Linked DNA regions of Homo sapiens. The protein of the gene in region 2 interacts with the protein of the main gene of each other region in a pairwise test. Each region holds a gene or a part of one and is shown on either strand. Other genes may lie near its edges.

What was found.
Region 1: the proteins of NECAP2 (region 2) and AP2B1 interact in binary tests that used the Homo sapiens proteins (3 or more experiments, as listed by UniProt).
Region 3: the proteins of NECAP2 (region 2) and PLSCR1 interact in a two-hybrid assay, tested with the Homo sapiens proteins (one large-scale study listed by BioGRID and IntAct).

What each region holds. Positions count from the first base shown.
Region 1 is NC_000017.11:35,628,816-35,632,469, reverse strand, and holds part of AP2B1 (AP-2 complex subunit beta), read right to left. Parts: intron 1-3,654. UniProt on the Homo sapiens protein: Component of the adaptor protein complex 2 (AP-2). Adaptor protein complexes function in protein transport via transport vesicles in different membrane traffic pathways.
Region 2 is NC_000001.11:16,454,159-16,457,812, reverse strand, and holds part of NECAP2 (adaptin ear-binding coat-associated protein 2), read right to left. Parts: intron 1,996-3,654; coding exon 1,920-1,995; intron 1-1,919. UniProt on the Homo sapiens protein: Involved in endocytosis.
Region 3 is NC_000003.12:146,520,490-146,524,143, forward strand, and holds part of PLSCR1 (phospholipid scramblase 1), read right to left. Parts: intron 1,565-3,654; coding exon 1,344-1,564; intron 1,217-1,343; coding exon 1,055-1,216; intron 1-1,054. UniProt on the Homo sapiens protein: Catalyzes calcium-induced ATP-independent rapid bidirectional and non-specific movement of phospholipids (lipid scrambling or lipid flip-flop) between the inner and outer leaflet of the plasma membrane resulting in collapse of the phospholipid asymmetry which leads to phosphatidylserine externalization on the cell surface.

The DNA.
Region 1 (3,654 bases), on a different chromosome or scaffold from region 2:
GGTTGATTAAAATTACCCTTAAACTATAAAACAAGGGCTGGGTGCAGTGGCTTACACCTGTAATCCTAGCATTTTGGGAGGCCAAGGCGGGTGGATCATCTGAGGTCAGGAGTTCAAGACCAGCATAGCCAACATGGTGAAACCCTGTTTCTACTAAAAATACAAAAATTAGCCGGGCATGGTGGTGCATGTCTGTAATCCCAGCTACTCTGGAGGCTGAGGCAGGAGAATCACTTGAACCCAGGAGGCAGAGGTTGCAGTGAGCTGAGATTGCGCCATTTGCACTCCAGCCTGGGCGACAAGTCAAGACTCCATTTCCCCACCACCCCCCAAAAAACAAATAAAACAAAATCATTGCCATAGAAGTAAAAAAAAAAAAAATAGTGAATTTTATATAACTTTAGGTGAAGCACAATTTTCTAAGTGTGCCACTGAGGAAAAACACTGACTGAGAAAAGCTGATACAAAAATCTAAACTTCTGTGCATCAAGAAAGCAGAAGAAATCTAAAGGACAACAAACTAGGAAAATAAATGCTAACTAAAAGAAGGGTTAACATCTCAATTACAAAAGACTTTAAAACAACAATGTGGAAAAGATAACATATTGGAAAAAGGTGCAGAGGACATGAGTGAGCAATTCCCAAATGGCTAATAAGCATAACTGTTATGAAAAAATGTTCACTTCAACTAGAGTTCAAAGATTTAGTTGCAAGGATACTCCTTATACCACCATTTGGAAAAAGAGTAGAAACAACTTTAAGGTCCTATAATAAGGGATAAAGTTACAAATTCAGTAAGTTATCAAGTAATCACGTTATGTCTATAAACCAGAAACTAAAGATGACATAAATTTTTCTTTATAATGTGGATCAATGTCCATGATATTACTAGTAAGAAAAAAAAAAGTAGAGGATAAAACAAAGTAAATAAATAGCATTTGTGGAATGATTTCATTTTTATAAAAAAATACATCTTTGTATAGAACACTATATAAACAATGATATAAAATGATGTCTACCAGATTATGTCCACTGCATATCTGAGAGAGTGAAACAGAAGATGGGGAAAGCGGGGTACCCCATTTTTTGTTTAACTTGTTCTATAATTATATATAGTAAACAAATATGGTTTTCCTAATAGGAAAAATATGTTTTTTGTCTTTAAGAAATGACACACAAACCAATATTTTATTCTAATATATAAAAATCAGAAATAGTAAACAGAAAATAACCAGAAGACCAGGAAGTGAAGAACTCCTGGTCTTAACCTAGTGCCTCAACCTCTCTCCTTTTTAAAACTGAAAAGGACCAGGAGTTTGTTTACTCCTGAAAGAAATAGGCAAAAGTTATTGAACAAAAAAATAGCACCATAGGATTGCTTTTTCAGTGCTATTTATTTGCTCAACAGCTTGTTGCTTCCCAAAGCTATACAGAAAGTTCATTACAATTCTTATGCTGCTGATTCCTGTCCCATGGATGAGTTAGTGCAAACAGGCAATCATTGCCTCTCCTGGTCCAATTAACTGTTTGGCTTGGCAACTCTGTCAAACTGAAAACCTTCATGGCTGAAACAGTTACAGGAAAAGTTCTAAGGTAAATCTGGGTAATCTGAAATGACAGCACTAGATAAGACAGGATTCCTGAAGGGTGACCTTAAGTTTCCTGGGAAAGTTCATTCCTCACATCCTGTCATACTCCCATCAAAGCACGCTTAGTCAAAGGAAGAAGTGAAAGCCATCAGAAGTCTTTTCCAGAAGATTATGGAGAACCTTTCCATTAGTCACAATAGATGACTAACAGCCTTGAGGAATCTAGATGCTTTGAGAACACTTTCTAGTAATTCCAGGGCTAGAAAGTCTCTGAACTTCAGAATAAGATATAATTTTTGTATTACTGTTTACAGCTTTGTCAGAGAGGTAGGTCATAAGACAATGGCAGTCTTGTGGAAAAGATGGCTATGTACACTAGTGAAGAGAACAAAACCACCTTACTCTTATGCTACCAAAATCTCTCTGAAAATTATCTACATTAATACTAAGTAGACGGCTAGTAAGATATGTTAACGTAAAAAGAAAAGAAAAACAAGTTGTGACGTGTGGTGACAGTGGTAATAAAAACAATGTTAACATATCAAGATCCAACAAAAAGACTTTAACATTTCTCCAATGAAGAGAAACATTAAATATCTGAATCAAGTGAGCTAGCAGAACCAGGAATAGAACCCAGGACTAGCTAACTTCTTGCTGTTAACAGCCTTTCTATTAAATTATTTATCAACAGAAACTACATGAAGCAGCACTAAACTGAAAAAAAACAAGGAAGGCCAATTAGGAACAGGTATTTCATAGAAGATTCTCTGACACACATCTGCCTCCTTTTGTTCCGGTAAAGTACTGGTCATACTGTACAAATTGTTTTCGTATTCCTGAGAAATCATATGGTCCAATCCTCTGACTCTAGGCAGAACTGCATATAATCAAGTAGCAAGAACAAACATGGGGCTCTGAACCCATAAAAACAGTGAACAGAAGCCACTGTTAATTTCAACAAATTTCTGAATGAGGACAAACAAATGGAGGACTGCTGACTGATGAAGCAGGGCAATGTAAATTACAGCCCATAATACTTACCGGAAGGCTGCAGCCAAGCTAGAAACCAATCTGCCCTCTAAGACCAGATAGGCTCTTCAAGAGGTCTTCCATGTAAAGATAAACCCCCTTCCCTAAAGCAGAAACCTGATAGTCGACAGCCTTGCCTATGTATACAGAAGTCCTAATCAACTTTTCTGTTACCTCTTTCTTAAACAGAAACGAGCTGCACTTTACTGTATGCATGGTATACATCTCAATTAAAAAATTATATGCATAGATATGCAATCATCACCAAAAAATATCCGATAATTAAATTCAAAGTGCAGAAACAAAAAAACGAATCATTCATATCCTCAGAGATTCAAGAAGCTATTGCAACCACAAAAAGAGCAATGCAAGGAAAAATATACCAATAACAAGAAATAGGGAGGCTGTATGGAATGATGTGCAGAAGCCAGAAAAGCAATCAGTCAGAGTAGAAAAAACAAGAAGACAGAGGACTGCAAAAGAGAAGGGTCTAAGACAAAAGAAAGTTTACAGATTTGATATTATGCTTAAGGAACAGGAATAATATAGGGGCATGATAAAGACACACATGCAAGAAAAAAAGAGGCAATTAAAGAAACTCCAGGGCCAGGTGTGGTAACTCACACCTATAATCTCAACACTTTGGGAGGCTGAGGCAGGCGGATCACTTGAGGCTAGGAGTTCAAGACCAGCCCAGCCAACATGGCGAACCTCGTCTCTACTAAAAATACAAAAATTAGCTAGGTGTGGTAGCGTATGCCTGTAATCCCAGCTACTCAGGAGGCTGAGGCATAAGAGTCGCTTGAGCCCGGGAGGCAGAGGTTGCAGTGAGCCGAGATCATACCACTGCACTCCAGCCTGGGCAACAGAGACTCTGTCTCAAAAATCAAAACAAAACAAAAAACCTCCAGAAAAAAAAAAGATGCTATAAGAAAGAAAATGTAATCATTTGCATTACATTGGCCCTAAATATTTACACAGTCGTAATATGCATAAATTTTGCAAGCCAACAGTTGATAGAATAAGAAACAAAGGC
Region 2 (3,654 bases):
TGAGCCTGGAAGGTCAAGGATGCAGTGAGCCGACATCACGCCACTGCACTCCAGCCTAGGCAACCAGAGTGAAACCTTGTCTCAAAAAAAAAAAAAAAAAAAAAACAGAATTACTATATTTTGTAAATGGAAATACCACTATTAAAAACAGAATGCTATAAATAGAATGTCTTTTGTTCCAAAGCTGATATACTAGAGCGATGCAAAAATAATATAAAAGCAATACATTTTGTGGCAAAGTTATCTCAGGGTCAACGCTGCAGTCTGAAGTGCCACTGGCAAGTTTTCTCAGGGCAAACAGGAAAAGGGTTACAGTCCTCATTTCACGCCTCTGTTTTTTTTGTTTGTTTATTTGTTTTTTGAGATGGAGTCTTGCTCTTGTGACCCAGGCTGGACTAGAGTGGCATGATGTCAGCTGACTGCAATCTCCCGGGTTCAAGCAATTCTCGTGCCTCAGCCTCCCAAGTAGCTGGGATTACAGGCACCACCCCACCACGCCCAACTAATTTTTGTGTATTTAGTAGAGATGGGGTTTGACCATGTTGGCCAGGCTGGTCTTGAACTCCTGACCTCAGGTGATCCGCCTGCCTGGGAATCCCAAAGTGCTGGGATTACAGGCATGAGCCACCGCGCCCAGCCCATGCCTCTATTTTTGTAAATAAAATTTTACTGGCACACAGCCATGCTGATTTATTTACATATTGTCTGTGGCTGCTTTTGTGCAACAAGAGCAGAACTGAGTAGCTAGAACGAAGACCACACGGCCTGAATAGTCTAAACTATTTGCTATCTAGTCCTTTACAGAAAATGTGGCTGGGCACACTGGCTCGTGCCTATAATCCCAGCACTCTGGGAGGCCGAGGCAGGCAGATCGCTTGAGCCCAGGAGTTCAAGGCCAGCCTGCGCAACATGGCAAAACCCCGTATCTATGAAAAAATACAAAAAATAGCTGGCATGGTGATGTGCACCTGTAGAGCCAGCAACATGGGAGAATGTGGTTGCAGTAAGCCGTGATAGTGCCACTGCACTCCAGCCTGGGTGACAGAGAGAGACCCTGTCTCAAAACATGAAAAGAAAAAGAAAATGTGTGCTGACCCCTGTCCTAGAATCTGTCCATGTAAATAATAGTGCAGTAGGAATTTAGTATCTTTTCACCCTGGCCCCAAGTAAAGTCTTGAGATCTTATGGAATCAGAGAAGACAAGCCACCTAGCCTCAGGCGTTCTATGAGGATGGGCTGAGGCTGGAGCCTGGGTCTGAACTCTCAGTCCACTATTTTGGGGAAGGTGGGGGATGGGGTATAGAAGAAGGAGGTACTGGGGACAAGCCAAAGCACTTGGGAAGGCGGTTTAAAGGCCCAGATTTGCAAAGGGTTGCCCCAGGCTATATAGCACTGGAAAGCAGCAAAACCTCCACGGAAAGACGTGTGCCACCCAAAGCAGGCACGCTGGGGCTCTGTCCTCTGGCTAGCTTGAAAACATCCAAATCAGGCCAGGCGCGGTGGCTCATGCCTGTAATCCCAGTACTTTGGGAGGACGAGGCAGGTGGATCGCCTGAGGTCAGGAGTTCAAGACAACCCTGACGAACATGGTAAAACCCCATCTCTACTAAAAATATAAAAAATTAGCCAGGCGTGGTGGCAGGTGCCTGTAATCCCAGCTACTCAGGAGGCTGAGGCAGGAGAATAGCTTGAACCTGGGAGGCAGAGGTTGCAGCGAGCCAAGATCATGCCATTGCACTCCAGCCTGGGCAACAAGAGCAAAACTCCCTCTCAAAAAAAAAAAAAAAAGAAAAGAAAACATCCAAATTAAAACTGTTACTCCTAATCCTAACACCAGAAGGCAGGCATGTGGAACAATACCAGGTTTGTAGAGCAACGGCCCTGGCCCCAGCCCCTCCGCAGAACATGGCCCTCCTTACCCTGTAGATTTGGTAAAGTCTCCCCAGATGTCAGCAGTGGCAGGATTGGGCTGTGGCCAGGGTACAGGAGCACCTCCTATTGATGTTCCCGAGTCCGACCCGTAGGAAGAGAAGAGGGGACAGAGAAGTCAGAGACCTTTCTGGTTGTTTCAATGACCAAATCATGAGACTCAGTGATCAGTCTCATGACACCAGGTAGCTGGGAAAGCCACACCAGACATGCTTTTGGGCAACCAAACACCCTGAGTTGCCACACTTCCAGCATCTTCTCACCAGCCCTTGTGCGCTCTGGAGAAAACGCAGAAAGCCACATACAAGGTGGAACGAGGGGTGCCCGCGGGATGGGTGGTTAGTCTCACGTCATCTAACATGCATACCTGAAGCTGACTTTGTTATCAACCATTTATGTTGAAATCTATTTAAAATTTACTATAACCCGTCTTAGCTTCTTGAACGGAGAATGTCCACCAAAACCGCAAGATCATCTTCATATCAAGCCTGCACTACCATGTCTGGATGAACTGGCTGAGAACACTACGTGCCAGCCACGTGCCAAGTCCCAGGCCCCAAACTGGTTAGGGGTCAGGAAGAGCATTCCAAAGAGCTCACACAGAAGCTCAATCCTATCTCTCCACCAAGGTAGGCGACGCCATGGGGCTGCAATGCCTGCTTTTGTGCTTTTCAGGCACCTCCCCCAGTGCTGCCAACTGCCCTTCTGAAGGGCCTGTGTTTGCCACCCTCCACCTTGGCACTAAGTTGCTATTTCTAATCTGCTCTGGGCCAGGAGAACAGATAAAACTAGGGCCCTCAATGGTTTAGAGTTTTACAGTTCACCAAGTGCTCAAGGCACATTATCTTCTGTGAACCTCACCCCAGCCCCTAGGGAAAGACAGATTGGGATGAGCCACGTGACTGTGCAGGTCATTTCAGTTTCCATTCTCTTACCTCTAAAATGCTGAAAATAACAGGAACTACTCCATAGGACTGGTGTGAAGATTAAATATCCACAGAATGCTTAGAACAGGTCCAGCATATAGTGGCAATAACGATATTAATAAAATGAGATCTAACATTCAGTGAGCACTTAGAATGTTCCAAAAATTGTTCTAAGTGCTATACATAAATCAGCTTATTTGATCCTCACAAGAAACTTATATTTTAAGTATCATTACTTCCCCTATCCTACAGATGAGAAAAATGAGGCATGGAGAAGTGATTTTCTAAAGATCACAAAACTGGGCTGGGCACAGTGGCTCAGCCTGTAATCCCAGCACTTTGGGTGGCTGAAGCAGGTGGATCACCTGAGGTCAGGAGTTCGAGACCAGCCTGGCCAACGTGGTGAAACCTCTGTCTCTACTAAAATTACAAAAATTAGCCAGGTATGGTGGTGCATGCCTGTAATGCCAGCTACTTGGGAGGCTGAGGCAGGAGAATTGCTTGAACCCAGGAAGCGGAGGTTGCAGTAAGCTGAGATCATGCCACTGCACTCCAGCCTGGGCAACAGAGTGAGACTCCTTCTTAAAAATAAATAAGTAGGCGAGGTGCGGTGGCTCATGCCTGTAATCCCAGCACTTTGGGAGGTCAAGGCGGGAGGATCACCTGAGGTCAGGAGTTCAAGACCAGCCTGACCAACATGGAGAAACCCCGTCTCCACTAAAAATACAAAATTAGCCACGTGAGGTGGCGCATGCCTGTAATCCCAGCTACTTGGGAGGCTGAGGCAGGAGAGTCGCTT
Region 3 (3,654 bases), on a different chromosome or scaffold from region 2:
ACATATACATACACACATTATATAATCCCCTTATAAGAGCCTTTTTAAAGTTTCTATATCACATCCTCCTTAGAACTGCAAATCTCTGTCATTAGATTATGAAGTCAATGGGGGAAAGGATTCATCTTTATATAGCTAAAGTCTGACGGAGGAATAAAATACCATGTGATTAAAGAAGGCAGGCAGATCACATAAATGAATGACACTGGATATTGAAAAACCTCAGTAAGGGGTGGAGACAGTGGTAGAGTTCCCATGTCATTATTACAAGGGGCAGCCCCACACATCTTTAGTAGATTTTTACCCTTTTGTTGGAAAGGTGGGCCCAGTTAACCCAATTTTCTGATTTTCCAAGAGAAACAAGAAATCAAGATTAAGTTATAAAACCTTCTGATTTTTAAACATTTGCAATGAAAAAATTTGGATTGTAAAAGTAGACCATCTGTTGTTGAAGAGCTACTCTAATGAAATTCTACAATGTATTACAGTAAATATACAAATATTAATATGTTGCAGCTTCTAGTGACCTAATTTAATATAGGGAAAAGGAGAGACCACAGAGAAGCATAACTGGGTAGTACATATTATACTAATTTTCTCAAAACTATCTTTGCATAATTGGGCTTCTTGTAGGAATTCAAAGATGTCAGACATTCTGAACATGGCCTTGAGCATTGGCAGATGATATTTCAGATTTAAGAAGGATCCATATGCTTTGGCAATCAGACTTAGATGGCAAGGTTAACGTTCTGTTTAAAATGGATAATATACAGTGTCATCACATAGAAACCACCACGTTTAAGTGAGGGATGATTTGCTTATTTTTATTTGACTACATAGGTCTGCTTCTTTTTTTTCCATTTCTCATGACCAACAGTGACCTTTAATCAGAGTGATAACTACCACTCTGCCCAAAGTTAAATAAATGAGAAAATCATCTTGCTATTGAGACATTGGCACACAACACTTATTTAATGCATTTATAATGTCCTGCAAAATTACATTCTTCTTATATTAGGAAAGCAAATCTTATAAACATTATGACATCTCTTACCTCAAAATCAACATCTCCACAACAGCTGCACACAACACATGGACCACTTATTTTTAGTACATCCTCTCTTTTCTCATTTTGAATTGTAAACTTTGGTAGACATGGGTGCCAAGTCTGAATAACATAACCTATTGGTACACCAGGAGGAGCTTGGATTTCTATCTACAAAGGCAAAATAATATATGTAAATGTAATAATCATAATGCCTAGGTTCGATGAAAGGTTCAATGACAGGGCAGAAATTCTTGCTGAACTATTTTACAAAGTGCCCTGGTAATTGATCACAGACCTCCTGAAGGCAGCAGGGACAACAACAGCTGCTACATCTTAGTGGTCTCTCCAGAGTTATGACTTCTTGACCCATATTATCAATAATCCTCAAGGTAAAAGGTCTAGATGGCCCACAGCAATTTCGGGTACAGCAATCAGTATCTTCCGCTGCAAAGTAAACCCTCTGTCCAAAGCTGTTCTTAATTTCATATTTGTTATTAGTTTCAAAACCTGTTAAAACTAAAAACATAAAAGACGAAATCATAATCACCTCTATGTTAAAAATATTGAATTTATCCAGATATTATAATATCTAGCTATGCCAGTTTTTGATGATACCCCAAGTGGCATAAGGAGGAGAAGAAATGATGTTTAGAGATGATCCAGACAGAGAAAAATGGCAAAAAAAAGGAGAGATTACCAATGTATAGAGAAATTAAGTCCTTATGCCGTGGGGAAAAGAGAGATCAGATTGTTACCATGTCTGTGTAGAAAGAAGTAGACATAAGAGACTCCATTTTGTTCTGTACTAAGAAAAATTTTTCTGCCTTGAGATGCTGTTAATCTGTAACCCTACCCCCCACCCTGTGCTCCCTGAAACATGTGCTGTGTCAATTTAGGGTTAAATGGATTAAGGGCTGTGCAGGATGTGCTTTGTTAAACAAATGCTTGAAGGCAGCATGCTTGTTAAGAGTCATCACCACTCCCTAATCTCAAGTACCCAGGGACACAAAACACTGTGGAAGGCCACAGGGACCTCTGCCTAGGAAAGCCAGGTATTGTCCAAGGTTTCTCCCCATGTGATAGTCTGAAATATGGCCTCCTGGGAAGGGAAAGACCTGACCGTCCACCAGTCCGACACCCGTAAAGGGTCTGCACTGAGGGGGATTAGTAAAAGAGGAAGGAACGCGTCTTTGCAGTTGAGATAAGAGGAAGGTATCTGTCTCCTGCTCGTCCCTGGGCAATGGAACGTCTAGGTGTAAAGCCCAATTGTATATTCCATCTACTGAGATAGGGGAAAACTGCCTTAGGGCTGGAGGTGGGACGTGCTGGCAGCAATACTGCTCTTTAAGGCATTGAGATGTTTATGTATATGCACATCAAAAGCACAGCACCTTTTTCTTTACCTTTTTATGATGCAGAGACATTTGTTCACGTGTTTACATGCTGACCTTCTCCCCACTATTATCCTATTGTCCTGCCACATCCCCCTCTCCGGGAAACGCCCGATAATGATCAATAAATACTAAGGGAACTCAGAGGCCGGTGCTGGCGCGGGTCCTCCGTATGCTGAATGCCAGTCCCCTGGGCCCATTTTTCTTTCTCTATACTTTGTCTCTGTGTCTTTTCTTTTCCAAGTCTCTCGTTCCGCCTAACAAGAAACACCCACAAGTGTGGAGGGGCAACCCATCCCTTCATTATGTGAGACACTGGAAACAAGTTATATTTTCCTAATTCCATAAATGTCTGTCAGAAGAGAGACTTTTCTGCTGAGAGTTGGGGCAATGCTGTGGGTGGGCACGGTGGTGCTAGGTGTATAGATAAAATGTCCACTAATGCAGGATAGTTTATGTGTAATGTGGAGGGGAATATAAGAGGATTGCTGTTTATGTGCTATGAAATTTTATATTAAATCAATTGGTTTGAGACTGTCTTATAAACCTTACTTATGTCTTATTTTTTTGCAATGCTTTTGAAAGAAGGCAATGTACACGCATAAAAACCGAGGGAGTAAAAATGAAAGATGAATTAGAATGTCACATTGGACCCAGGGCATCCTTATTCAACTCAACAGTAGTTGTTCAGAAGTGGGAGGTGGGTATTAGACAAACGTGTTCGGCAACCAAGGCTTCAACTCACAGAATATCTAGACCGTGGGAATCCTAAGTGAACTCTGCACCTTTGCTGGGCTAATCTATCTTCATGAGGGAAACAGATGGCTGCAAAATGCTGACACTCACATACTTTGTATCAAGGGCTTTCCATATCTAACCATACATTGGAAACCTCTCCATATTTAAAGCCAGAAAGGAGCAATAACTGTCCCATTTGTACATAGTCCTCAGTAACTGGGGTCATAGATGTCAGAAGCCTGGCTAAAATAATGAGTGATTAAAATAAATATATGGAGGAAAAGTCACTCTATAATGCCTATGTGGAAAGACTCTGAGTCGGATAAAGACGGCCTTCACAAGTCTTACCACCATGAACTCCTTTAAGTGTCCTTGGTGGGACACAGACAGACCCTGTACTCTGCATTTATAGGAACAACGTCTGATTTCAACATCTGAAATAGTCAAATGTTTGATGAGAAAAAAGTTAAGCTGATT